Homo sapiens: one gene and its partners. The protein of the gene in region 1 interacts with the protein of each later gene in a biochemical or structural test. Each region holds a gene or a part of one and is shown on either strand. Other genes may lie near its edges.

Region 1 (7,060 bases):
AGTATGATTTTGGATCGCTTAATATATAATATTGTGTTGTGCTAGAAAAAACTAACATATACATGTATTGTTTTCATTTAAAAATTAATTAAAGAGAAAGAGAAAAGCAACATTTTAATGCCCCAGGAATTGAAACTAACGTTTTCTGTCTCGGCTGGACCCCTACGCCCATCTTTTGATTTGCTGATATCATTTGCCATGTGATGGTCAATACATGTCTGCTGGGTAAGCAGTAAAATTCTGGGGGCAAGCCAGTTTTGAGAAGCTTATAATCTGACTGGGGGAGACATATCTTCAAATTTTGGAAAGATATTTAATTTCTAATTATCTTAAAAGCAAATAAAAGAAACATCAACTGACCATGATCCTGCACATTTCTCATCTCAGCATCACTACGGTAAAATAAGCCAATGATGAACACTGCCATTTCACTACAAACTCTCTCCTTTTATTAACGTTGAGTATGAACACGAAACGTGATCACCTGTTTAAAAGAAAAACACCGCTTTGTTCTTTGACAATTTCAAAATAAGGAACTTTGGGTTTTTATTCCTTTTAAGAGTTTCTGTAGTTGACTGTTTTTTTCTTGCTATACAATTCTCCTTGGATCTGTATTACCTCAGCTCCTTAGATACGGCAAGGGTAGAGAGTCCTCACTTAAAAAAATTTCCTAATTGTACACATTAAAAGCTAATATTTAAGAAAAACCCTCTTAATCCTCCAACCCCTATTCCTACTGTGAATAATCTGGTTTAATACAAGTTAAGTCTATAAATAAATCTGTTCTTTCTCCTCAAAAAAACAGTTAAGAAACTTTACAAGAATTACAGGTTTAAAAAATTTACCGAGAGAAATCAAAGTACTGTCACTTAACCCCTATTAACATACGGTGTTCAAGCCTTCCAGTATCAGCGCCTTTTGCATAGCATCGCTGCTAGTCGTTTCACTAGCATGCTGGCTAGGAGTCTTCTTAGTCACTCTTTTCTTCTCCTTGATAGTGTCTGTACTCTGGCTTCAGCTCCCATGTGTTTTTGTGGATCCCTTTTACATTCTGAACACCAATTTCTTTTAAGATTTCCTTCAGGTACACCTAAAACAAAAACAAAACCCCTAACAAATGAGATTATAAATGCAGGGGACAAAACTTAAAATAAGATGATATGCCAAAGCACATATGCAAGCCATAAAAATTATGATCCTAAAAGCTCAGCAAGATTTCTCTATAAGGAGGTTCAATAAACTGCCTTTTGATTCTACATGTGCGACATGGTAACTGCACTAAATATATGATCATGTGCATTAAAGGAGTTGAAAGTCCTGAATGCCAACAACTTAAAAGCTAAAACAAACAAACAAAAAAAACACAAAAAACACTACATGAAATACACGAAAAAATTACTGGTCCTCACTCAGTGTGACACGGTACACCAAGGGTAATCTGCCCTTGAGTTCAGTGGCCTCATGGGACTCAGTTCACAGATTGAAACCAGTAGTTTCAGGAGCAGTAGCATATAAAAAAAATGAGCAACATTTTTGAGAATATTCTATCAAGCAGGCATATGACAGGTATTCAGAATTCTCAGTTCTAAGGTGAGTTCTCAAATTTGTTTTTAGGCCACCCACTTATTTTTTCCTATGTGAGAAGGAGAGTTGTTATTTGTATTTACTACTATTTGTACTTTAGCCAAGCTTGCCAACACAGATAAGGGAGTAAGAAGTGATAATAAGGCCGGGCTTGGTGGCTCACGCCTGTAATCCCAACACTTTGGGAGGCTGAAGTGGGCAGATCACCTAAGGTCAGGAGTTCGAGACCAGCCTGGCCAACATGGTGAAACCCCGTCTCTACTAAAAATACAAAAATTAGCCAGGCATGGTGGTGGGAACCTGTAATCCCAGCTACTAGAGAGACTGAGGCAGGAGAATCACTTGAACCCAGGAGGCAGAGGTTGCAGTGAGCTGAGACTGTGCCATTGCACTCTAGCCTGGGCAACAACAGTGAAACTCTGTCTCAAAAAACAAATAAATAAATAAAGTGATAAGAAGACATCCCCTAAAACTATCAGGGATGCAGCCTTGTGTTTGGCTTCTCCAAAGAAAAGAGTCATATTATGGTGTTTTAGGTCCCTAAAAATTCAATAAACATTTACTAAATGATTACTATGGTCATGGAAATGATGGCTATGTTAAGTGTAATATGAAACTAGACCTTTGCTTGCCAATGCTGAAGGCCAAAAAGCATTCCACAATAAGCTGACCAATATAAATTACAGAATTTCCTTCTTGGAGAAGAAAGGAAAGATAATAATATTAATTATTATTATCATTATTATTTTGAGATGGAGTTTTGCTCTTGTTGCCCAAGCTGGAGTGCAGTGGCATGATCTCGGCTCTCTGCAACCTCCGCCTCCCAGGTTCAAGCGATTCTCCTGCCTCCTCCCAAGTAGCTGGGATTACAGGCGCATGCCACCACGCCCAGCTAAATTTTTTGTATTTTTAGTAGAGATGGGGTTTCACCATGTTGGCCAGGCTGGTCTCGAACTCCTGTCCTCAGGTGATCCACCCACTTCGGCCTCCCAAAGTGCTGGGATTACAGGCCTGAGCCACTGCACCCAGCCAAGATAATTATTTAAAAGCGACTCTTTTGTTGTTGTTGCAGAACAAAGCAATCCAACAATAATTTGTGTGCGTGTGCTTCAAAGAACTAGTTACGGTATGATGATGACTCATCCCATTGATGGAAGATGTAATTTTTCTTATTGATTGAAGTGAGGCATTAATAAGAAAAATGGCTGAGAAGCTCTTGTCTGTATATTTAAGGTAGTGCTTTTCTCTAGCATGGTGCTAGACCACCTGCATCAGAACCCTGTGGGGAGCTTGTTAAATGAGACACAGCTTGGGCCTACTGAATCAAAGTCTCTTGGGCTAGGCCCAGGAATCTGCATTTTAACAAGTGCCTAGGCGACTCATGTAACTATATACTAAAGTTCCACCACATCTGGCTTAAGGTTCTTCCAGTTCTGATACTCTAGGATCTTTGAGTCCTTAGTGTGTTGCTTCGTTCTCTGAGCCTCATGTTTGCTGTAGAGTACGTGTTACCAACATAATCTAATGCCACTTTACACTGACTGATATAATGCTCTAGAGTTCATAAAGTCCTTTTAGTTAGGGGTAGGTTGTCACCTAGAAACATAATAGCTGATTAGTACTGGAAGTATACAGAGGTTCCTTCAGGATGGCTCAGCTCTCTCGTGGGCAGCCTTCCCATGCCAGCAGCCAAGCCCCAGCAGATGGCAGCAATGAACCAAATGAGCCCTGGGTTCCCCCGAGGCTTGCCTACCTCCCACACCTTATACAGTTGGCTTCACTAGCAGACCCGTGTGAATGAGTAAGCATAAAGGCTTGAGATATCTAGGTAATATAAAATGCAAGTCTGCCACCTGCTATTTCAAATTACATTTAAAAAACAGGACACTGTTCATAAACTACTTTCTAATTGAACAGGATTCATAAATGGAAAATGATTGGTTAGGCACAAATGATTCTCTGTTTAGGTGCCAAGAATGACATCTTTGTAAAATTCCAAAGAATGGTTTATTATGAGACTGGCTAAGACGATGTTGCACAAACAACCATACAATTGTGGATGCACTGCAATGGGTCAAAAATGAAAAGAACAATTGCCAGGAGCATTTTAGTAGCTCCATAGAAAAGAAGCTCTCCTGACTTCAAGTCTAGTGTGCCCATTTATAATCTAGGCCCAGAAAATGAAAATCCTAAAAAGGGTTAAACAAAAAATATTAATAAAGTCTGAAGTGTACAAATTCAGTTGTTTTCATGTCCACCCTCATTTTGGCAATCTAGTAGAACATATGGAATTCTTTTTATAAACGAAGGTGTCATTCTTTTTTCCTTGTAACAATAAGAATGGAATGAGATGACCATAGTCAGTCAATTTCTCAAGCAACAAAATGCAATCAGGGTCACAATGTACTGTGATCAGGGGGTAGGGGACACAAACTTCCTGATTTTTAGGATGTTCTAAACTGCAACCTAAGACCATTTTACTCTAATCAAATAAATTAGCTTGGCAGGGAAGTAGGTATAAAACATTAGCAGAGAAAGTAGTAGTGACGATAGGGAAAAACAAGGTCTCTGAAGGGAAAATCTCTAAAGGGAAGACATGGACAGAGAACAGAAAGAGCACATGTCCTTCCTCTGTCTAAAATATTCTAATGACTTCCCCGTTTGGGCTACACATTAAATTCCAAACGCCTTTGTAGGCATCCACTCAGGTCTGCCTTCTCCCTTTAGCCTCATCTTCCAACACTCCCCCTCACGCATGCTTCCCATTTCTGCATCTGCGTGCTTCTGGGTTTTTCCCATATGTTGTTTCCCTTCCTTGTAACGTTTATCTCCTTTCCTCAAATCTGGACCCCTCATTCTTTAAGACTAGGCTCAAATGTTACTTTCTCAGAGAAACTTTCTCTAACAGCCTTACCTTAGATTTACATTTCACACCGCACAACCTTCGATGGTAGCTCTTATTATATTATAATCCTTTATTTATATGCCTTGCTCTCCTCTTAAATCACATGCTCCTTTTTTGGGGGGGGCGGGGGGACGGTGGGAACAGAGTTTCACTCTCGTTGCCCAGGCTGGAGTGCAATGGCATGATCTTGGCTCACTGCAACTTTTGCCTACTGGGTTCAAGTGATTCGCCTGCCTCAGCCTCCCGAGTAGCTGGGATTACAGGCATGTGACACCACGCCTGGCTAATTTTGTATTTTTAGGAGAGACGGAGTTTCTCCATGTTGGCCAGGCTGGTCTTGAACTGCTGACCTCGTGATCCACCCGCCTCGGCCTCCCAAAGCGCTAGGATTACAGGCATGAGCCACCGCGCCCGGCCACATGCTCCTGTTATAGTGCCTGCGTGCACATCACAGAGACTCAGTGTACTTATGCAAAGTGAATAAGGCGTGCTTAAGACTAACAAGGCAGCTAAGAGGACTGCTGGGTGGTGGTGGGGATATCACTAAGAAGGTCCATAAAAATAGACCATTCAAATTCTAGTTCAGTTTTAGAACTCAAGCAGTGATCTAGTTTGAGAAACAAAGTTTACTGACTAAACTGTACTACGTGAATTTGAATGTCACTTATTACTAAAATCTGCATTTTAGTGCTAAAATATTGTTGGTGACAGAGCCAACTGAAGAAGAGGTTTTAAAGGTTCTACCAGGATTGAAAATTACTTGGTAATCTTATTTCTCTTTTTAACATTCATATATTCACTCAAACATTTATTCCAGCACCTACAATGTGCCAGGTGGAATGGTAGACACTCAGTCTTCCTCTCAGAGTTCACAGTTTAAGATTAGTGCAGAGGATGGGGGCAAAGAAAAAGGCATATTACGCCGGGTGTGATGGCTCACGCCTGTAATCCCAGCACTTTGGGAGGCTGAGGCGGGTGGATCACCTGAGGTCAGGAATTCAAGACCAGCCGGCCAACATGGAGAAACCTCGTCTCTACCAAAATTACAAAAATTAGCTGGGCGTGGTGGCAGGCCCCTGTAGTCCCAGCTATTCAGGAGGCTGAGGCAGGATAATCACTTAAACCCAGGAGGTGGAGGTTGTAGTGAGCTGAGATCGCACCACTGTACTCCAGCATGGGCAACAGAGCAAGATTCCACCTCAAAAAAAAAAAAAAAAAAAAAAAAAGAAAAAGAAAAAGGCAAATTGGCAGGTAATCAGAAAATATAACAGAGGCATGTGTACAGGGTATTATGAGACCACTGAGAAGGGGGCACCTAACACAGCCCGCATAGAGATGTTAGGTTCTTTGAGGATAGATATTTGATCATTCGATTTGAACAGCAATTCTGTGTAGAGATCTAGAGAAAGGAGTTCTCCTCCTCTTACTTAAACACTGAGTGACTTTCCAATTAAATCTTTTGTCTAACCACCTGTATTTGAAACAGAGGATTCTAGAACTGAGTAGATCACTTTTATGTCACATAGGATTGGGGATATGTCTTATTACAGACTATGTGCCAAGCTGCAGCACAAGATCTGAATAAACTGGCTCAGGTCCAGCAATTCTTCATCAAAAGGATGTGTGGGAGAGAATTTACGGCAAGTCTGAATGCAGAGAAATAAGGGATAGAACATCACAGCTTTCTTGGAAGGAAATGGCAAGGCACATACTTGATCAAAGAGGTCAAGTGATTAGGATGTTTGTTTGCATTTGTGGGTCAAGTTAAAACTGCGGTGGGCAAAAAGCCAGAAGTCCATGGATCAACATCCTAATTGGCCCCCAAGACTGAGACAAACCTATAGTCATAAGGCACAGTAGCCTATTATTTTAGTCTTTTGCTCCTTCCTTCCGTCCCTCCACCCCCTACCATTTCTCATATCATCTTTTCTTCTCCTGCTCTGTCAAACAAATGGAGGACTTAATCTGCATTTCATCTTATCATGCATTTCAGTGATAAGCATAATAATAAATCAATTATATCTAAATTTGTAGATGTTCATTAAAAACATACACCTTTGACAGGGAGATGATCACCAACTACTAATGCTTTAAGTAAGTTAACAATATGACCCTGTTAGTCTTCCAGTCACAAAATCTTCCCAAAATGGTGAGACTGAATATTCAATATGCAAACTTACACTGATGATGGCACTGATTAATGCAGCTGACAAAGGAAAATGCACTATATGCTTTTTATAAAGTGATCCAACCACAAGAAGGGCATTATCGATTCTGTGATAATTTCAAAGTATCATTTCATCTTTACATGATTTTTGTGTGAATGACTGCAACTCCTTTAAGAGATATCAACAGAATGAAAACTTACTGATGAAGATGTTAGTGACTTCAAGGCAAAACATTCTTCTGTTAAAATATAAACTACACATTAGGAAGAAACTGTGATCAAACGTGATATAGTTTGGATGTGTGTCCTCATGAAAATATCATATTGAAATGTAATCCCCAGTGTTGGAGGTGAGGCCTGGGGAGAGGTGATTGGATCATGGGGACGGAACTCTCATGAATTAG
Region 2 (7,273 bases), about 28 Mb from region 1:
AGGTGAGTGATGTCAGGGAGGAAGACGTTCATGTTGATACTGTAAGGTAACCCTTCAGTGTCAGTGAAGAACTGGTCTACGACTGAGGCACTGTCTCGTCTATACTTTTTATGCTCTGGAATTATAGGAACTGGAGGAAGCTGAGGTGTCAGATACTTCTCCATTTCACATCTTGTCTAAAAAAGAAGAGATATAAAATGCATAATCCACCTGATTCACCATCTCGGGAAGAACGAACAATCGGCGCCTACTAAAAATTCCCCCAATCCCTGTGTAAGGTACTAGGGCAAACTCCTCAGTGTTGCTTATAAACATATCAGGCTTATTTTGTCGATTGTGTAATAACTGGTTGACCAAAACCTTATGAAACTCTGTGTAACTGGTAAAACTGCTCCCCCAATCACCCCCAAAAGTGAAAGACGCAAATCAAGAATAAAAAAGAAAGCAAACTTAAAACATTCCATTCTGATGCAATAACAAGGTACCATCACCCCTGTACAAGCAGGATTCCCTGCCCCATTACACAGTTAAGTTTGCAATTAGAGTACAGTATTGAAATGTTGCCAAACTACCTCAATTCTGTTTAAGTCACAAACATTAAAAAGCGTGGTTTTTTTTAATAGAAAAAACGATGCAAACCTTTAAAATATTGCACAGGTTTCTTTTCTTGACTAGATACTTCAAAAGTAATATAAAAATATTATTTGGCTATTTCAGTGTCTTTTCTTGTTTACAGTTCAATGAGAAATTAAACACAACGTTCTAAGCAAAACCTTGTATCCACTGAAACAAAACAATTTCACATTCAATATTTGATCTAAATGTTGATTTTCATCAGCAGATCCTGTAATTGGTTAATATGATAATGAAATGTTCCTATTCATATCCCTATCTAAAACAGATCTTTAATTACCTAGGGGAAAATCACTCCCTTGGTAGAGTGCTGCTAAGGAGCCCGTGGGTGGGGAGGCTGCTGTATCCCTAGCACAGTCATCAGCAAAACATTTATCATGTCCTTCTCAGTGGGCCAATGCTACATTCCCCCCTACTCTGTAAAAAGCTCAGTCATCCCTTATCTTCTTAGTGCCTCCAGAGCAGAAAATTGACAAACTGAAATAACCAAATACTTTTCAAACGGTGATCTCTTTTCTAGGCTATAAACCAGCTTGTAACAAGTCGCCTCAAGCCTTTTCCAGCTATCTTCTCTCCTAGTATAACTTAAGCCTACATTTTTTAACACTGAAAAGGAAATTTCGAAAGATAAGAAAACCAACTAGATGGAATGGCGCATATATTAGCTGTGGCACCTTAACAGGTAAATAAGACAGTCATTTTCTGCTACTACTTCATTTCAAATGCGTTTCATCTCGGACCTTGGTGTGGATGCGGACGGGGTTTCCCGGATAGACATGATTTAAAAATAAAAATTAACGCTCTCATCATGTGAGTCACATCTCTGACAAACGCCACTGCCCTCTCACAGCAAGACCCTGGCAGACCCCACGGAGTAGGCGCTGGGTAGCAAATATACGACACGCCAAAGAGCTACTAAATGAAGTGTCTTGAAATAAACTGAACTAAACCCTTTCGTGCACTGCGCTCCCGCGGCGGTTAGTGGTTTCTGATTTTAGCTCTTCCAGCTGTTTGCATGTGGGTATGTTTCCAATTTTTTTTTCCTTGGGACAGGCTAAAAGTCCCGGGAAGTTTTTTCTGGGCTATATGACTCCCTGCGTGGGCGAAAGAAACAGGCGGTTGCTCTAATTCGGCTGCTGGGCAAGTGTAAAAGCCAACTGCCAGCTTTCAACGCGGCTCCGGGAGGAAATTTACGTGCACACGAAGAAAACAACACCCCCGGTCTTTTTTTTTTTTTTTTTTTTTTAAGGAAAAATAAGCGCTCCGACACAACCTTAGCTTTCCTAACTCTCATTTTCCAAACGCGGCCCGCAATCGCTTCTAAAGCAGGTTGAGCCACCGGGTATGAAACCTTGGGGAACCTCTCCCCAGCACCCCAATTTGCGTTTCTACTTAACCCGAGACGATGGGGATGGGGGGGAGGGCTCCAATGCCTTGGCATTGGAGAGCGGTACAGGCGAAGGCGTAATTTAAGTAAAACTGAGCGTAAGGTACAAGGTTTCGTCCCTCAAGTGTAAGAAAAACAACTAAGGTGCGCGTGAGCACCCAGTTCCCTCCCTCTTACCTCTCCCAGGCCGACCCGCCGGGGCAGATTCCCCTCCATCCTTCCCACCCCCGGCCCCCCCCCCCATTTACTCTCAGCGAAACGCGGGGCCCCGGCCAGGCGTGCAGGGCGGGGCTGCCCACCCAGCACCGGCTCCGGTGCGCCCCGACGCACGCCCCAGCCTGGAGCGGCCCCTGTCGCCCGCGAGTCGCAGCAACGGGACACGCCCGAGCCCGGGAGTGCTGCGGTGGGAGGGGAGCGGCTCTTCCTACCTGGACCAGGTCCTCTGGAGGCAGCCGCGGGCCGGTGGCGGGCGGCTGGGCCGGCTGCGGGGCCTGCGCGGGCGCGGGCTGCGCCTGCGGGCGGTGGTGCGCGTGCTTCAGCTCCTCGCCGGGGAAGAGCGCCGCGTCGCGGGCCGGATTCGCGGCGCCCAGCACCGGCTTGAGCTGCGCGAACACCGGCTCGTCCTGCGGCGCCGGCGGCTGGGGCACGGGTCCCAGGCGGGCGCTCATGCTCAGCACCCTTGTAGCCATGGGCACTCGGGGGCGCAGCTCCAGGCGCGGGTCGGGCGCACTTCCCACCTCGCCCACGCTGGCTTGGGTCGGCGAGCTCAGCGCGGGGCTGCCGGCGGAGGAGGGGAGGTTTCGGGTGGACTCCTCAGACAGCGGCAGGCAGTTTTCGAAGGCGCGCACGAAAAGCAAAACTCTTCCGCTCTTCCACACGTAAACGCCAACGTCCTCCGGGCGGCCACTTTCTCCCGCCCCGCCCCACCGTGCTCTCAGGCTCTCCGGAGCCCGCTCCCGCCACCGCCGACCTCCGCGAGAGAACCGCGAGCGCACGTACCTGCCCCGCGACTACTGACACTTGACGCCCGCCTCTATTTCACCCAACTCCGGGGGGGCGGGGCCCGATCGCCTGATTGGCAGCGCCGCCGCGAATCCCGAGGCCCCGAGGCCGGCCAGGCCTGAGCGGCCAGCCTATGAGCAGGGAGAGAGGCAGCCAGGGCCCCGCCTCCGTCGGCCCGACCGCACCCCTCTCGGGCCACGAGCTTCGCGCGCAGGGCGGCCGCGCAGTTTGTACACAACTTCTCTGACAGATTGGGCTGGCGGAGCCGGGGGCGGAGGGAAGTAGCGGAGCGGGTGGAATCTGGGAAGAGGGGGAATTAGGGTGGAGACGCGGAGGGAGATCTCTTCGCACTGTTCTCTGCCAGGATTAGGAAGAAAAAGAGTATTGCACGTCTTAGGTGTTGTGCAAGGACCTGAAACTCAAAAGCTGAAACCCAGAAGGCAGCTAGGTAGGGGCGCTGAGGCTTTTAGAGATTTGTCTAATGAGTGTGTACTTTTAAATATCCAAAATGTACTTCTCTTTAGCAGAAAACTAGGGGCGGTGTGATAAACAAATTTAAAACAGCTCTTGTCCCTGTGTATCTTTAGCAGTGAGTGTATCCGTTTAACAAGGCAAATTCAGAATGCCTGAATAAAAGATTTGATGGCAAGCGTTTTTTCAGATCCTTGCATAAAAGCCTGGGTTTTTCCCACTCCTTCAGGATTTTAATTGCTAGACGTTTTCCCACACATTTCTACTTCCCATCCGTGTGTGGGGAGGAGGGCTTGGGCCATATGAATTTTGAAGTTTCTAATATTTAAGCCGTGTTGATTCTAGCCGAAGCATGGAATCTAATTTAAGCACGACTAGCTCAAACGTGTATTTAAATAGACATTACATCTTTGACTTATTTTTGCTAGCACTGTATGTTCAAAAAATGGACTTTAATATTTACAAAGCAGAAACCTAGCACATTTACCTCACATTGTGGCACCTTTTCCTACGAAGAGACAATCAAAAAGCCGCAAACATAGACACAGAGCAGCTCTGAAAACTGGGAATCCAAATTTGTTGGAAAGTAATAGCCAAATATATTACCATCCATTTACTATGTTGTTATAATGGGAGGGTGAATTTTTGCCAGCAATCACCTAAGGAAACCACTTCCCTTAATCCTTAATGTTCTTGTACATGATTTTATCTGGCTTATTGGGAGGACGGAACAATAAACTGCAATAAAAATGCCTGTGATATTACTACAAATGTACATATGTTGACACACAATATACCATTAGACAGTTTTACATATACCACAGCCTATTCATCACTTCAGAGTAAAACAGCTTTAAAAAAAAGTCTTGGATAAAAACGTTCACTTCAAAGAGTGTATCTATCAAAGGTATGGATCTCATTTTCAATGGGTAGAAAATTAATATGCACATAAAGAAATGTATTTATTATTAGAAAATATAAAATTATGCTGTAAACTGGGTTTTTCTCCTTTTCCTTCTCTTCCTGTTGACACATGATTCATTTTTATAGCTGTGATCACTGCCTTCAGAGAATGGCTGATGACTACTTTCATGTTATCAAAGTATTATTTAATAAGTGCTTTTGCAAGTTTTTCTCTAACCAAGCAGCCCCATGCTGTCCATCTTCATCTTTAAAAAGCTGTCCTGCTTTTCTCTAATGTAAAACCTATCATGTAATTAATTAGCTTAGAAACAGATTATAGAATTAGGATGGGATTTAATGTAACTCTTTTAAAAAATTGAGCTTTGAAAGATTTTTAGTTACTTAATTCTGATAACATCAAACCTAAATGTGATGTAGATAATTCTTAATAGAACTTTTGTGCTCTTGTAACTTTAAGCTAAATCTAACTTAGATTTAATACATTCGGTAGCTGTATCTTAATGTGCTTTTAAACCTATCTAGACCTTTCCTTTTGTCTTTTTACGAGAGCTTCAGTGGCCCGGTCTTTCAACCTAAGTTTTCACTGCAATAAAATCCATGTATTTTACTGGAAATGCTTCTATAATTTCACACCACTTTTTAACATGCTTTCATTTACAAAAGCTTTTTCATTGCAAAAAAAAAACCATACAACTAAGTTTTTAATATTTTTAGTCTTGTTAATTTTTCATATTTCCACTTTTCATAATATAGATATGAAGCTAGCGTTGGGGTTCTTATAGTAACTGAATATATTCCTTTTTGCTCCAATACAGTAGCAGGTTTTAAAATTCCATTTTGGGCATAAAGATTCATGAAATAGGGCTGCCACTTTTAAGTAATAGTTTCTCTGAAATGCCCTGCTCTGCAGTCTCACAGAAAATAACTAGCTTAGCACTGTACAATAGTACGGAAATTGGAAAGTAATCCTTTTCGGAGACATTTGCCATGTGATTCTGAACATATAAAGAACATGTTCGACCAAGTTTCCTTGCTGTTGCTTTTAACATAAATGCTACAGCTGCAAACCTGTTTCACCGACTTAGTAAAAAGGGTTAAAACTTGATAAATATTTTTCAAATGTTCCAGGTTCTACATTGGCTTGAAGCCAGACAGTGTGAATGGACAGATCCTCAATTACTTTGAACTTTCTAGTTCTTTGCATTCCTTCCCGCTTAGTAGTGCTGTACCATTAGGGAAGATAGGAGAAAACAAAAAACAAATGTCAGGTTTCAGAAATCAATTAGTGGCCTGGCAGTGGTGTGTTAACTGAACTGTGCCAAAACAGGGGATTCTGAGGGAATGAAATAAAAATGTTGAGTAGTCAAGTTAGGTAGGAGGGTAAGCATAGAAGCAGTGTGCATGCTTAAGTCCTTAGTCACTGGGCAACACAGATTTAGTCTTAGAATAAACCATAAGTGTCACTATCTTTACGGGAATAAATACGGATGAATATGCGGGGGCTGAACAGGCATTCAATGTTGGGGGAGGGGGTTTGAAGGAGGCAGTGGAAAAAAATAGATAAATAGCTTCTGAATGATGAGATGAGGGAAATATGAAGCTATCACTAGGGCAATGTTCACACAACGACACGGCAAAAGGAATATCTAAATTCAGTTGTTTGGCAAATCTAAATTCAGTTGTTTGGCAAAAACGTCACAGCTTGAAATTAAGAGGTATAGAGTATCACAGCCAACAAAACTGTATTCACTTTGAGTAGAAAAATATTCATAGAATATTTATTTCTGCCAAATCAGTATCAAATTGCCAAGTGATCTTGGGCCACAGAAAAAAGAACAAGAATAAAAATGAAAAATAAAGCTTTATACGGGAGCACACTCTTCTCTAGGGTAAGATTATTTAATTAAAGTGACTTTTTGGTAGTCATTGATTGCACACCCCTGTTAGAATCTGTATCAGTGAAAACTTAAAACTATTGTAATTATTGTCCTCTCCAACATTTCACATCTGTAGTCTTTGTATTTTTTCATTAATGGCAACCACCTAAAGCCACACATCAGAAAAAAAGTCATTAAGGAAATAGCCTGATAAATAGAAGCTTCAACTGAGATTAGTTGGAATTTAAAGCATTTTGACTCAAAAGATTACGAGACAAGAGAGAAGATGCTCTGTTCATTGCTTTTGTGATGAAAAAATATGCAGTTTAAATAAGACTAAATACTTCTATTTATATTAATTAAAATTATGTCTTAAGACAACAATTTAATATTTTATTTTTGTAATGTCTCTTGCCTCCAGTTCTTAAGAAATTACATTTTATATTTCAGTTTGGATTTTTAAATGTGTTCTTCTTAAAATATTTCATAAAACTCCCTTTATGCACTTATTCCTAAGGGTACTATAATTTATCTAGCCTAATTTTAAAACTCTAATAATATCCAAAAAAACAGGAGAGTTTTACCTTTTGGAGAGACTGGGATTGCTTTTTCCACCTTGTTAGTATAATAAGTAGACAAAAGTGACATAAATATAAATGCCTGGAACCAAGTTATAGGCCAAGCGTATTGTAGCTTAAACTGCACAGTATTTAAATTCTGACTCGAAACATGATAGGCAAGGTTAAAAGAAAGGTCTGAGCTAAAGTGGTTACACCAAACAATCTTTTAGAACATTAGGGAGGTCTCATCATCAGCATCACAATGGGCAGTGTTTTGAGCCGATTGCTGTTCATGTTATGACAAAAGCTGTAATGTACCAGGCTGTGGGGAACACCCTGTGAATGCTCAAATGAACCGTGCATGGGTCACACGGAAATACTCTTTTAGATGTTGATTTATAGATGAAGTGTGTAAAAGT
Region 3 (4,453 bases), on another chromosome or scaffold:
GATCAGCTGAGGTCAGGAGTTCGAGACCAGCCTGACCAACATGGTGAAATGCCATCTCTACTAAAAAATACAAAAATTAGCTGGGCATGGTGGCGGGCGCCTGTAATCCTAGCTACTTGGGAGGCTGAGGCAGGAAAATCGCTTGAACCTGGGAGGCATAGGTTGCAGTGAGCCGAGATTGCACCATTGCACTCCAGCCTGGGTGACAGAACAAGACTCCATCTCAAAAAAATAAAAAAATAAATAAATAAAGTCTAGTATTTTCCAATAGCAAGACTCACTATTTGGTCTCTCACATTAAATTAAGTGTACACATGGGATGCACTCACGTATTTACTCAGAACCTGCCATTCCATCCATCGCCAGAGGTCCAGGAAAAGATAAGAAAGAAAACATGCTCTGTAATGCTGCTGAATACTAGTTTTTACTGAAGACCAGGCTTCACTTAATTAAAACTGTACTTTAGAAATACCTTAGTAGTTGAGGGGACAGCAGGTGTGTGGTTAAACAAAAGGTAAAGCAAGCTTCATTGTCTAAATAAAATGACAAAATGTGATATATGTTTAACAACAAAAAAAACTTTATTGAATTACAAATTTTAAAATGGATCACTTAAAAGTGAGATTATTTTATTCTGAAACATTATTTCAAAAATGTACTTTGTTTTTGAAATAAAACAAAATCTTCAACTATGAACTGACAAAATAGAGGTGAGTTGGTACCAGTGGGCCAATTCTTAACACGGACATTTAAAAATGCTGCTTTCTGTATTACAACAAAATGATATGCAATAAGAAATTGGAAAAAGGGAGCAAAGGAGAGTGCAAAGCATGTACTGAGGTCTTTCTACGGGTGCCTGACAGAATGCAGATTCAGCATAAAATGTAGACTTTGCAACAGTGGCCTTTAAAGTATGCTAGAGCAAGTGTACCCTAGGGAACCTATGTCAAAACAATTTTTGTCTTACTCCAAACAGAAAAAATGGTACACACTTTAACAAAAGCAAAACTTAATTGTAAGATCTGTACTGTAAAGCTACTTGCTATAGCCCATATATTCAGTTTGTTCAACAATCTCACTCATGACAGAAAAAGTCAGCAAATAAGACTTGGGACAAAATTATTTTCTATCAGTCTCCACATGGAAAGACCACAGCTTTAATGAATTATACAATCCTTAAGATTAATCCTTGGTCAGTATAGATTTCCGAATCAAAATCTAGTCATGAACTGTTTACAATAGCTATACTACACTAAGATGCTAAACATTTTCTTTCCAGTATGTCTTCCTAAGAGGGGAAAAAAATAGTGGGAAGTTTTCATCTTTGCCTATGAGGGGATTTATGAAAAGCCTTCTAAACTACAACAGTGTTCTTCTGCAAAACTAAAACACATTATAAAGTCAAACAGGTAAATTAACAGGAAAACCAAACTGATCTCAATAAAGTCTTGTTTCCAAAAATCTATTAAGAACAAGTAATATACATGTACAAGAAATTACAAGAAATGATGATCACGGTTAGTTACAGATGCAAAATAATATCTAATATTCCAAGCTTGTGAACATAATAATTAAAATCAAATTCATAAGCTACCTCAAAATTATGTACATTTTAGATAAGCTGGTCAAGTATTATTTGAATACACACCATATTTGGTAAACCTAAAATTATATTACCTTTTCTCCTCCTTTAATATTTGTAGCTACATGCCAATATGGAAAAAAATGTATTTTCATTTATGTATTAATAACAGAGAGTAACAGAATTTCTACTGTGTATGTTTCACAGTGTAAAAGAAAAAAAGTTAAGGTATATTTTCCTTTAAGAAAGAAGAAATATTGCCAAGAGTTTAATTAATATCAACTTACTTATAAAAACAGAAAAAATATGTTTTGAAACAGGTACCATAAAATTATTATATGGTCTCCCTACTGATCTGAAACTACAGAAGGCATTTAAGGAAGGGATGTTAGGTCAAAAACAAAGTCTAACCCAAGTTGCTTTAAAAATTTGATTTGCAGGAAAACTAGTTGCTTGGCCTAGTTTAAAGCTAGTTACAAAATCCGTTTTCTTAATGGTCCAGATATTTTGCCAATTCTTCCAACTCAACAGAACTGTCAAAAAAGAAAAAATATTTTGTAAGACCTTTAAATACCAATAAGGTACATTCCCCATTTAATACAGCATACACCTGATATTGCTTTTAAAAAAGATGCATTTTTGAAAAAGATGCTGTATTTTTCACACATAATAATCACCTATCTTAAGTGCCTGACTTTCCCAACTTAGAACTACTAGGAACATACAACTAAAGAACTTGTATAAAACAATTTCAGCATTTTTATTAAATACCTCTTTATAATGTTTTTAAGGTTAAAAAAAAAAAAATAACAATTCCAAAATTGAACTTCTAAAATATGCCACTCTAGGCATCAGCTTTCTATCCTAAAATTGAACTTTCTTAAATTCAATTAAGTACTATGTCAAAACTTGTGTCACAAAGTGCATGTATTCAAAGCAAACTGCACTGTACACCTCATCACCATAATAAAAATGATCCATCAGCTGGGCACGGTGGCTCACACCTGTAATCTCAGCACTTTGGGAGGCCGAGATGGGCAGATCATGAGGTCAGGAGATCAAGACCATCCTGGCCAACGTGGTGAAACCCCGTCTCTACTAAAATACAAAAAATTAGCCAGGCATGGTGGTCCCAGGTACTCGGAAGGCTGAGACAGGGGAATCTCTTGAACCCGGGGCCACAGAACAAGACTCCATCTCAAACAACAACAACAACAAAAAAGATCCATCATGCAAAACAAATCCAAGAGAACAGGCCAAATTTTCTCAACACGATTGAAAAAGAAGGTGAATGTCCCTCTCCTAGACCAATGACAACTTCTGCAACCTGAGATGGGTAGGAAATACTGTTTCAAACCATGAAGACACTTTCAGTAGCAGTAATCTTTCCAGCTCAGAACTAAATCTTTGTACGTAATAAGGGTACTGGGCCGGCCACGGTGGCTCACGCCTGTAATCCCAGCACTTTCGGAGGCCAAGGCAGGCAGATAACCTGAGGTCAGGAGTTCAAGAGCAGCCTGGCCAACATGGTGAAACGCCATCTCTACTAAAAATACAAAAATTAGCTGGGCATGGTGGCACATTCCTGTAATCCCAGCTACTTGGGAGGCTGAGGCAGGAGAATCGCTTGAACCTGGGAGGCGAAGGTTGCAGTGAGCTGAGATAGCGCCACTGCACTCCAGCCTGGGCAACACAGTGAGGATCTATCTCAAAAAAATTAATGAATAAATAAAACAAAATAGGTACTGGCCCCAACCCCTTAAAGTGGAGTTGAAGAAGCCAAATGGATATCTTCGACATGGTTTGGGACTCTGGCCCAAATGGCTTCTAGTTCATTTCTGATTTTCAGAAAGTGCTTTAAGCTAAGTGAATAATTCAAAATGAGCATTAAACTGAAAAGTCTATGTAAGTATAAATGAAAAAAAAAAGAATCTTGTACAAACTTCAGAAAAACTAATAAAAATAGCCAGCATTTTTAGAACACCAACAATTATCAGGCACACTAAATATATTATCTCTACTCTTCATCACAATCCGAAATGTAGGTACTATTTACATTTAATACATAAGAACAATATAGTTCAGTAATGGGAAGTGGCAAAGGAGTTCAAAATCAGTTTGTATGATTCCAAAGACTAAACTCCTACCACGTAAGCCTCCCAAACTCACACCCTTAACATCCTCATCTATAATAATGATTAAAATGTTTTTAGTACTGATATGTATTTCTGCTCCCAAATTTAAATTTTATGCTTTTGTTTCACAAAATCCCTCAAGAATGAATCATTTAAATAATATAAACTTGCCTGTGTGGGACTAATTTCAAGAGCACACAGGCAATATGAAGGCTTAGTGAAAAGCCTACCAAATGACAGCAGTGCTCATCTGTAATTTCTAAAATAAACACTAAAATCATTGGGTCTGATTTCAACAAGGGAAAAAAAATTTTCCAAAATCAAAATCTATTAAAACAAGTAATACACATGTATAGATTTTCTGGAAGTACAAGAGTCAAAACAACTTAATGAATATAGTATAAATAGGACAGTGATATAATAATTGAACAGTTAAGATTCACTCCCCATTTCCTGCACCAAAACAAATAAAGGTGGTAAAGTCAAGTTAATACTCTTTATTTCTAGTAGGGTAACAAGATGGTATATTCCATTACAAGTAGTCAGGGAGTACAAGAGTACTGTATAGTGTGAGCATATCTGTATATATTTAGATATCTAGGCAGACCTATGAAAAGACCAGAAGAAATCTTTCTATTTTAAGTGAGTATATAATATGAATCCAAGAGAGTCCATACCTTCCATCGATTTCCACATTCATTACAGACAACAAATGTTGTCATTGGTTCATCAGCAC
Region 4 (3,815 bases), on another chromosome or scaffold:
ACAGTGTTGTTAATTTGTAAATTAAGAAGCTGGCTCCCCGGCTGTCTAGTAACTTAGGGATTAGCAAATGCAAAAGTATAGACTTTTATGGTAGTTTCTTATCCTTCCCTTTCCCAGATTTCTGTTCTTTGGTTGGTTACAAAGCCTCTTATCTCTTTTTGATTCAGTAAAGTGATGGGTAATAATGCGACACTGGAACAAATCCATCTCTTGTTGGAAATGGAAGCTGGGTTGGGACTTGTGCTGTGTCACCCTCAAGTATGAAGTGTAAACTCTTTCTTGGGCCACCAAAGTAACTAAACAAGAAATGCAACATTCTCCCATGAATACATTAGAGTTAATACTGTGGCCACATTTGGAAAATTAGCATAGCTCGTAAAAGCCAAATGCAGAAAATTAATTGTTAAGTATTCTATCACCACAGCTCTATCCTCCTCCGCCCACCCACCCTTGAGGAAGACAAGCCCAAAGTTAGTTGATGCTATGGAATCACAAGGATGTCCCAGTCCGTGATTTGCTGTAATTGAATCCATTTTAAATGTGGAGTCTGGATGCTGTTGGCATACCTTTATTTTGCTTGTTTTTCCCCCTGACAAACAAATCATTTACACATTTGCCCGAAGCCATAGAATGGGTAGAGGGGATGACTAAGATGTCATCACGTGCTCTCAATTTGGAGGCAGCATGATTTCCCCTGACATTTACATTTATGGGCTAGCTAATTTTTCCCTTCGTCTTAGTAAAGTTTATATTACAGAAGCGCCCAGCCAAGAACCTTATCCCACATCCAGATCTGTAAAATGATGTTCAGATTTTATAATCTGTGGACTGGATGCAATGACAGCTTGTGACTGTTTATTGCGTGGGACTGCCCCCAAATTCAAAGATGCTATTAATTTACCACAGACCTTATCTGCACGATTATCCTTCATAAATATGCTGACGCAATCCACTTTTTCTGGTTCAGAGAGGAGACCAAGGGAAACAGCTAACCCGGTTGCTAAAACCTTTTTCATTTTCCTTCCCATATGTGATTGTCTCCATGTCCAAGGGAGGCTGGGCTAATCATGAACCTGGTCTCCCATTTTTAAAGAGAAGATAAATTATGCTCAGAAGAGATAGCGGTTCATTTCTCACCGACCACTTGATTCCCTTGTCTTACATTAAATGTTCTATTTCTGTTATCTCTAATGCTGTTTGTTTTCCATATAGAAGGTTCAGTTACACCATTACATTTCCAAAACTTTTCTTAAAAAACTCATTTTTAAAAAACGAAGCAACTTACCCATTTATATATGGTCCCCCTCCCCCCAAGAAACACACATAGTTTTGACAAAGGTACCTTTTTCAAAGATGAAACAAAGTATGTCTTTCCATACATAGATATGTGTGTGTGTGTGTGTGTGTGTGTGTGTATATGTATGTATATATAGATTTTTTTAAAGCTAAGTGCTTTCAGTTGAGAGGGGAGGCCCGAAAGGAAAAAACCTAGAGAGATGACGGGGGAGATGGGTTTTTTTTAGTATTATTTTAATGTAACTTTCTTTTGCTAATCCGCTCCTCTCTCTGTTCTCTAGGACATATGAGCCCTACCACCTGCACCCTGAGGAAACACAAGACCAATCGGAAGCCGCGCACGCCCTTTACCACATCCCAGCTCCTCGCCCTGGAGCGCAAGTTCCGTCAGAAACAGTACCTCTCCATTGCAGAGCGTGCAGAGTTCTCCAGCTCTCTGAACCTCACAGAGACCCAGGTCAAAATCTGGTTCCAGAACCGAAGGGCCAAGGCGAAAAGACTGCAGGAGGCAGAACTGGAAAAGCTGAAAATGGCTGCAAAACCTATGCTGCCCTCCAGCTTCAGTCTCCCTTTCCCCATCAGCTCGCCCCTGCAGGCAGCGTCCATATATGGAGCATCCTACCCGTTCCATAGACCTGTGCTTCCCATCCCGCCTGTGGGACTCTATGCCACGCCAGTGGGATATGGCATGTACCACCTGTCCTAAGGAAGACCAGATCAATAGACTCCATGATGGATGCTTGTTTCAAAGGGTTTCCTCTCCCTCTCCACGAAGGCAGTACCAGCCAGTACTCCTGCTCTGCTAACCCTGCGTGCACCACCCTAAGCGGCTAGGCTGACAGGGCCACACGACATAGCTGAAATTTGTTCTGTAGGCGGAGGCACCAAGCCCTGTTTTCTTGGTGTAATCTTCCAGATGCCCCCTTTTCCTTTCACAAAGATTGGCTCTGATGGTTTTTATGTATAAATATATATATATAATAAAATATAATACATTTTTATACAGCAGACGTAAAAATTCAAATTATTTTAAAAGGCAAAATTTATATACATATGTGCTTTTTTTCTATATCTCACCTTCCCAAAAGACACTGTGTAAGTCCATTTGTTGTATTTTCTTAAAGAGGGAGACAAATTATTTGCAAAATGTGCTAAAGTCAATGATTTTTACGGGATTATTGACTTCTGCTTATGGAAAACAAAGAAACAGACACAATGCACACAGAAAATATTAGATATGGAGAGATTATTCAAAGTGAAGGGGACACATCATATTTCTGCATTTTACTTGCATTAAAAGAAACCTCTTTATATACTACAGTTGTTCCTATCTCTCCCCCGCCCCCCACCGCCCCACCACACACATATTTTTAAAGTTTTTCCTTTTTTAAGAATATTTTTGTAAGACCAATACCTGGGATGAGAAGAATCCTGAGACTGCCTGGAGGTGAGGTAGAAAATTAGAAATACTTCCTAATTCTTCTCAAGGCTGTTGGTAACTTTATTTCAGATAATTGGAGAGTAAAATGTTAAAACCTGTTGAGAGGAATTGATGGTTTCTGAGAAATACTAGGTACATTCATCCTCACAGATTGCAAAGGTGATTTGGGTGGGGGTTTAGTAATTTTCTGCTTAAAAAATGAGTATCTTGTAACCATTACCTATATGCTAAATATTCTTGAACAATTAGTAGATCCAGAAAGAAAAAAAAATATGCTTTCTCTGTGTGTGTACCTGTTGTATGTCCTAAACTTATTAGAAAATTTTATATACTTTTTTACATGTTGGGGGGCAGAAGGTAAAGCCATGTTTTGACTTGGTGAAAATGGGATTGTCAAACAGCCCATTAAGTTCCCTGGTATTTCACCTTCCTGTCCATCTGTCCCCTCCCTCCGGTATACCTTTATCCCTTTGAAAGGGTGCTTGTACAATTTGATATATTTTATTGAAGAGTTATCTCTTATTCTGAATTAAATTAAGCATTTGTTTTATTGCAGTAAAGTTTGTCCAAACTCACAATTATTTTAAGAGGTGTTCTCTGTTCTTAGCTGGGCTTAGCTCGAAAGTGCTACCCACATGAGGGGGAAGCTGGTCTTTTTTAATATTTTAATGTAAGTCAACCAAGAGTTGTGGCCAGATTCAGCCATGTTGGGGTGATTGGTGGTGGTGGGGAGTGAACTGAAACTACTGAAATACTTTGAAATGTTTCCTCTGGCAGCTTGTTACTTATGGAAAAGAGGTGGAATTGCTGCGAGGAGTTTTTCAGAAAAAGTACAGTGAAAGATAAGCTTTAAATAAGTGGTGAGGCGGAGATCGGCCAGCATCTAAATCATTTGTACATGATCAAGGGAAAATCTTGAACTTGAAATCTCCCAGCTACCAACACATCAAACTTAAAACTGAGGAAAAGGGTCCTTATAGCTGTTTGCAAGTGGACATGGTAACGAGGCGCATTCGCTGGGCTGGGGGATGGAAGCCGGCTCCCCTTTCAGGAGTGTGTGAAATCGCATTCCGTTTAC

What was found.
Region 2: the proteins of GTF2F2 (region 1) and KLF5 form a complex in vitro, tested with the Homo sapiens proteins (one study listed by BioGRID).
Region 3: the proteins of GTF2F2 (region 1) and TCEA1 form a complex in vitro, tested with the Homo sapiens proteins (one study listed by BioGRID).
Region 4: the proteins of GTF2F2 (region 1) and MSX2 form a complex in vitro, tested with the Homo sapiens proteins (one study listed by BioGRID).

Annotation. Positions count from the first base shown.
Region 1 is NC_000013.11:45,277,472-45,284,531, reverse strand, and holds part of GTF2F2 (general transcription factor IIF subunit 2), read right to left. Parts: intron 1,091-7,060; coding exon 971-1,090; 3' UTR 1-970. UniProt on the Homo sapiens protein: TFIIF is a general transcription initiation factor that binds to RNA polymerase II and helps to recruit it to the initiation complex in collaboration with TFIIB.
Region 2 is NC_000013.11:73,054,764-73,062,036, reverse strand, and holds the start of KLF5 (Krueppel-like factor 5), read right to left. Parts: upstream 3,033-7,273; 5' UTR 2,710-3,032; coding exon 2,449-2,709; intron 2,356-2,448; exon of another isoform or gene 2,237-2,355; coding exon of another isoform or gene 2,198-2,236; intron 177-2,197; coding exon 1-176. UniProt on the Homo sapiens protein: Transcription factor that binds to GC box promoter elements. Activates the transcription of these genes.
Region 3 is NC_000008.11:53,965,998-53,970,450, forward strand, and holds the end of TCEA1 (transcription elongation factor A protein 1), read right to left. Parts: coding exon 4,395-4,453; intron 2,116-4,394; coding exon 2,107-2,115; 3' UTR 559-2,106; downstream 1-558. Other genes in the region: LYPLA1-TCEA1 readthrough, read right to left, coding at 2,107-2,115, 4,395-4,453.
Region 4 is NC_000005.10:174,727,582-174,731,396, forward strand, and holds the end of MSX2 (homeobox protein MSX-2), read left to right. Parts: intron 1-1,577; coding exon 1,578-2,002; 3' UTR 2,003-3,315; downstream 3,316-3,815. UniProt on the Homo sapiens protein: Acts as a transcriptional regulator in bone development. Represses the ALPL promoter activity and antagonizes the stimulatory effect of DLX5 on ALPL expression during osteoblast differentiation. Probable morphogenetic role.